2 separate regions of the Homo sapiens genome follow, and region 2 is linked to region 1. The links come from fine-mapping of genetic effects on gene expression. A gene starts in region 1. The other region holds a variant in brackets. All regions are shown on one strand. Distances are between the middles of the regions. Region 1 holds the start of GPR132 (G protein-coupled receptor 132). Region 2 overlaps BRF1 (BRF1 general transcription factor IIIB subunit).

Region 1 (2,796 bases):
TCGTTGCCCAGGCTGGAGTGCAATGGCACGATCTCGGCTCACCACAACCTCCACCTCCTGGGTTCAAGTGAGTCTCCTGCCTCAGCCTCCCAAGTAAATGGGATTACAGGCGTGTGCCACCACGCCCGGCTAATTTTGTATTTTTAGTAGAGACAGGGTTTCACCATATTGGTTACGCTGGTCTCGAACTCCTGACCTCAGGTGATCCACCTGCCTTGGCCTCCCAAAGTGCTGGGATTACAGGCGTAAGCCACCGCACCTGGCTGGATTGCCTGTAATTTCTAAGCTGTTTCACGGTTGCTGGCCATTCCTAGCCATTTCCGTCTTTTACTCCCACCTGCTTTGGCACCAGGCAAACCTATGACCTCTTTTCTGCCGTCACGTTTGAGACAAACCCTAGGGAGGGAAATGTGGAGTCACCAGCTCCAACCTCCCTGCTCCACCACACCCATCCAAAGCCCATTGTCAACTTTCTTATTTTTCCCAATTTGATAGTGTTGCCCAGGCTAGAGTGCAATGGCGCGATCTCGGCTCACTGCAAGCTCCGCCTCTCAGGTTCAAGCGATTCTCCTGCCTCGGCCTCCCAAGTAGCTGGGATTACAGACGTGTGCCAACACGCCCGGCTAATTTTTGTATTTTTAGTAGAGACAGGGTATCACCATGTTGGTCAGGCTGGTCTCAAACTCCTGACCTCAAGTGATCCGCCCACCTCGGCCTCCCAAAGTGCTGGGATTACAGGCATGAACCACCGTGCCCAGCCCCTATCCTCATCTTCTTCCAGGAGCCTCTGCTCTCCCACCTCGGCCTGGCCAATCTCCTGAAATATCATTTTGTGCTCAGCCCAACTGGCCAGTCTTCAGTGGTCAGTCCCAGTCCCTTGCAGTGGTACAGACCCACGTCATGCACTTGACAGAAGGTATTGGGCCCCCCGCCCCGCTGTGCCTGGTGCGCCGAACGCCACTCCAAAGGCCGGTGACCTGCCCAGCTCCAGGATCTTGTCACGTGACTGGGCCAACTGCCACTCACCGCAGCACAGCCCCCACTGCCCTGCTTTTCCCTCTGTGTAACCCCACAAGCAGCACAGGCCCCACAGAGAGAAGCCCAGCCCTTCAGTGCCCCCCGACCAATCACGGAAGCAAGTGGCCAAGGAGAGATTCCAGGGACAAAGTCCAGCCCCCTGACTCACCCCCATCTGGACCAGTAGCCAGGGAAGCCTTTTCCAGAAGAAAGTCTCCAGGAAGGTGGCGGTGACAAAGATACAATGGAAACTGTTGTCCCTCTCCCCCAAATCCTCCGGCCCCATCACATCTGTGGTCACTGGGGGTCCTGGGTTCTCTCGGGAGGGACCCCAGATTAAGAACCCTCAACAAAGCCTCCATCTTTACCAACAAATCACCTTTGCCTTCAGATCCCCCTCTGCCCGCCTCCAGCTCCCAGCCCCCAGCCCCATCCCAGAGCCTGGCCCCCCAGGCCCACTCCCCAGCACGCAGAGCCCAGCGACTTACCCAGGGCCCCGCCTGCGTGGCTAGCCTCGCACCCCTCCCTGCAGTCCTAGCTGAGGTTTCAGGAAGTAGCAGGGGTCTAATTATGTTCTGTCTAGAACTCCCCTAACCACAAACAGGGCTGAGCTAGGGGTTAGCCAACCGGGCTGGGGTATCTTACTGGTGATGACAGCATGGCCTCGTCACCTTCCTGAGGGAGGGAGTGGCAGGAAACCCCAGTCTTACCTCTTTTAGCAATAGCAGCACTCAGAGCCAGGCTCCACTCACTCAGGAGCTCCCAGGCAGGTGCTGGGGCCTGGCGCGGCACAGCGGCTGTCCGTGTGTCCCCAGACAGGCAAGGCAGGACAGGGGTCCTGGAAAGGCTGCAGGGAGGGGTCCTGGAAAGACAAAATCCAGCTCCTCTGCAGCTCAGGCCTGGTGTTGCCCACTCTCGGGCCAGGCAAGCACGGAGCAGGGTGACTTCCCAGAGGCTGTGTCCTCCCAGGAGTCCCTGTCCGGGGTGCCAGGAGTAGAGAGGCTGAGTGCGCCCACTGCAGCCCCGGGACCAGGATGGCACCTGCATGTCCTGGAAGGCTCGGCACAGCCACTGCACACAAGCACCCTCCCCTCCCCGCCTCCCTCTTCCTACATGGGGCAGGGCCGTGTGGGAAGAACAGCCTACTGCACACTCCACATTCCTCCCCCAGCCCTACCTCAACCCCTCCTGCATCCAGAACCAAGCCTGGCCTGGCCCAGGAGCCCTGCGGGTGGGCTTCTCTGTGAGGGGCCCTGTGGGAACTGGAGGGTGGGCAGGCAGGGTTGCCTGGGACAGTCCCCCTCACTGTGGGGCTTCCGGCCATGATGGGCCCAGTTTCCTTGGACAAAGCCAGCTGGCTGTGGACAGCACCTACAACTCCACTCACCTCCAGGCTGCTTCTGAGTTTCAGGGCACAGACCCACCCTGGTGCCCACTCCCGAGCCTGCCAAGCTCCATCCAAGCCAGGCTCTTTCAGCAGTGGGGACAGGGCCGGGCTGAGGGAAGGAGCTGGGGACCACAAATGTCTCCAAGCGACACTGCCCAGCACCGCAGCAGGGACGGTCACTGAGCGAAGAAGCCGCCATCCTGGGTGGGTACACCCACGGCCAGGAGAGGCCGGTGGAGGCCGAGCCCCCAGTCTACACTTTCCCCCAGACACGTGGATCACAGCTGCCCCCTGCTGCAGGGCCGCATGGCTGGAGGCTGCCTCCGAACAGCGATTTCAGAGGGTTTTGTGTGGGTGGCAGTGGAGTCCCTGGAAAGCTGGGCTTTCCCATT
Region 2 (2,796 bases), 150 kb after region 1:
AACAAGTGACAGTCCAGGTGAAAGACCCCTGAGCCCTGGAGGGCTGGGCCCTGTGACCTGGCAGTGCCTGCTTCCTACATACAGGCTCCCTGCAGGCACCAGGCCCACAGCAAGGCTGCTCAGCCTTGGCCCGAGCGCTGAGCAGCAGGCACACAACGGTCCCCACTTCCTGCCCGCTCCTGCTCCGGCAACCGGGAGCTCCCACCCTCGGGCCTCGATTCTCTGGCCATGCCAGGCAAGTATGGGGCAGCAGGGGCAGGCGCCTCTGTCAGGCCTGCTCTCCCTGTGGTCACAGACCAAGCATCTGGGCCCAGGAAGAAGTGGGCTGCCTCCCAAGGTCTCCCTGCCCTGGCTGCGTGGGACAACACACCTCTCCCGTGGCCACCTTCTTTGCTGGCTGCGTAGACACCAGAGGCCTCAACCTGCAAAAGGAAGCACAGCATGGCGGCCTCAGCCCAGGCTCCCGAACGCCTGCCCACTTGTTCCCTTTTGCCCATCTTCCCTTTCCCAGTGTTAATTGACTGTTTCTCTGTCCCTTTGGAAGCCTGGTTCTGCGTCCAGGTTCTGTGTGCTCCATCAGTGCTCACTGCACATCAACACAGAGCTCTGACCCGTTCACATTCTCAACAGCGAGCAGCACTCGACACAAACACAGAAGCTGCAGACGCCCCGCTCCCCAGCCCACTCCCCTTCCAACAGTGCCTGAGCCCTCAAGGAGCTGCCTGGTGCCCTACCTCACTCAGGGAGGAGGGGAGGGAGGGTGAAGGGACACTGTCAGACCCGAGAGTGCTTCCCCAACCCTCACCAGGCCCAGGGCAATCCCTACATCTGCTGACAACACCCTGCACAGGGCCTGCTCGCCGGCCCGCCACACACAAAGGCCAAAGGTGCCTTCCACATGCCAAGTCTTCTTGGAGACTGCTGGTCCCCCCAGGGAGACAGGGGGGCCCAGGGGAGAGGACGCAGGCATTACCCACAACCTCCAGCACGGACACACAGGGCTGTCGGGCGGGCAATGAGAGGGCTCAGGGCCTGTGGGGAAGGACGCAGC[G/A]GGGCAGAGCCCTTCCCTCCAGGGCACAGCTGTGTGGGGAGGCGGTAGGGGGCCTGAGGCAGGGCCCTGCCTGGCTCTGACGTGTCAGATGAACCCTCGGGACACTGGGAAGGGACCCCATGACAGGTGGACCTTAGCAGAACATCTAGACGTGGAGCTCTGCTCGGGGTGAAGCTGATAGCAGGTGTGAGCCAGGCTGAGGCCCCGGGCTCCCCATGTGGTCCCTCTCCAGACTGGAGACAGTCTGGACACCAGGGCTCCTGGTGGTGCTGTATCCTCAGGCCAGGCCTCCAGCCTGCTTCCTGGAGCCTGACAGCTGCTGCTCCGCCCTCCCCACTCCCATCCCCAGGCCCACTGTGCAGTGGAGTGGGGGCCTCTGGGGATGGCAGCTGGCCCTGCAGCGGGGCTTCTCAGCAGGCTGACCTCAATGAGACACCCCACTGTGGTCTCTCCAGAAGTGGCTGGCGCTCCAGGAGGCAGGCCTGGCAGTTGGGTGGGAGGCCTGATCTTGGCCGGTGGGACTAAGTCCCCAGGAGATTCATGCTCTGGAAGGTGAGGCCAGCAGGCCCCCATTGAGAAGGGCCCTGAGACCCCGCTGGCTCAAGGAGAGGTAGTTTTTTTCTTTTTTTTTTTTCTGAGACGGAATCTTGCTCTGTCGCCAGGCTAGAGTGCAGTGACGCGATCTCGGCCCACTGCAACCTCTGGAAGAGGCAGTTTCTTTGACTTTGGCAGACTGTACCTTAGCTAGAGAGGAGCAGATGCTGGCGGGCAGGAATACGGGGCTACAGGGAGAGCGGTGCTGTTAGGAGGGTGCGCTTCCTGCAGGGACACACCCTCCCTCCCCCACCTGGCACTGAGGACAGGCTGAAATTCAAGCCACAAGGTCCTGCTGCACTGACCCAAGGTCCTGACAGACAAGTCCAGCTTTTCCAGAACCAGGAAGCAGCTGTGCCAGGCCTCACCCTGGGGGGCCAGAAAGCTCCCTACTCCTGCAGAACCCGGCTGGAGAGAGGGTGCGTAGTGTTCATGAGTGCAGAACCGCAAGGGCTCCTGGGGTCTGCGGGCTAGCTGGGGGCCTGTCTCAAGGGCTTCCCCCTCTTCCACGCAGTATCCTGTGTGAACCTGAGGCAGCCAGGCCACACGGGAGGGCCTGAGAGCGCCTGGAGAACAAGCTCCCACCTGGCATCACCTCGGCCATGGCTTTGGCCTGTACGGGGGTCCCCAGCCAGGGGCCTGAGGATGTGGGGCGCTGCGGCCCATTGTTCACGCAAACCCACTGTTGGGCTCAGGCTGCTCCCTCTCGCAGCCGCGCCAGCACCTGCTGACCCCGCTTGGCTGAAGCTCGGCCCCAGCCCAGCCTGGGGGGATCCTGGGGCCTGTAAGCAGGCAAGAGGGCAGCTCATCTGGTGGGCCCCCACTTTGTCCCCCTTCCAGATATGGGCGCTGGGGCCCACAGCCCACACTGGCCCCTCTGCCTGTCCCCAGAGTGGGACGCTCAGGCATGAGGACAGACTGATCTGCATGGGCTAGAGGAAGACCCCGAGGGTCAAAGCAGCCCGAGTGACCACAGAGTGAGGAGGAGACAAGCTCGGAGGGAGCGGCTGCCCACATCCCTGTGTGGCTCAGCTGCCCACACCCATGCATGGCCCACCCCTGCGTGGCTCAGCTGCCCACACCCCTGCGTGGCTCAGCTGCCCACACCCCTGCATGGCTCAGCTGCCCACACCCCTGCGTGGCTCAGCTGC

The links. PIP is the estimated chance that this variant, and not a neighbour inherited with it, causes the effect. A credible set is the group of variants that fine-mapping cannot tell apart.
Region 2: its variant is the best candidate, but not a certain one, in a credible set for the expression of GPR132 in thyroid (GTEx, PIP 0.56).

Annotation. Positions count from the first base shown.
Region 1 is chr14:105,063,874-105,066,669 of GRCh38, forward strand. It overlaps GPR132 (G protein-coupled receptor 132), which reads right to left and starts at 1,557. Exons shown (of 4, transcript NM_013345.4): 1 at 1,506-1,557. RefSeq lists enhancers at 36-135, 246-385, 2,063-2,580, 2,256-2,425, 2,636-2,705.
Region 2 is chr14:105,211,743-105,214,538 of GRCh38, forward strand. It overlaps BRF1 (BRF1 general transcription factor IIIB subunit), which reads right to left. Exons shown (of 18, transcript NM_001519.4): 16 at 371-422. Among named protein-coding and RNA genes, the nearest start is that of NUDT14, 32 kb to the left of the region's middle. The variant G/A (reference allele first, on the strand shown) is at 1,052.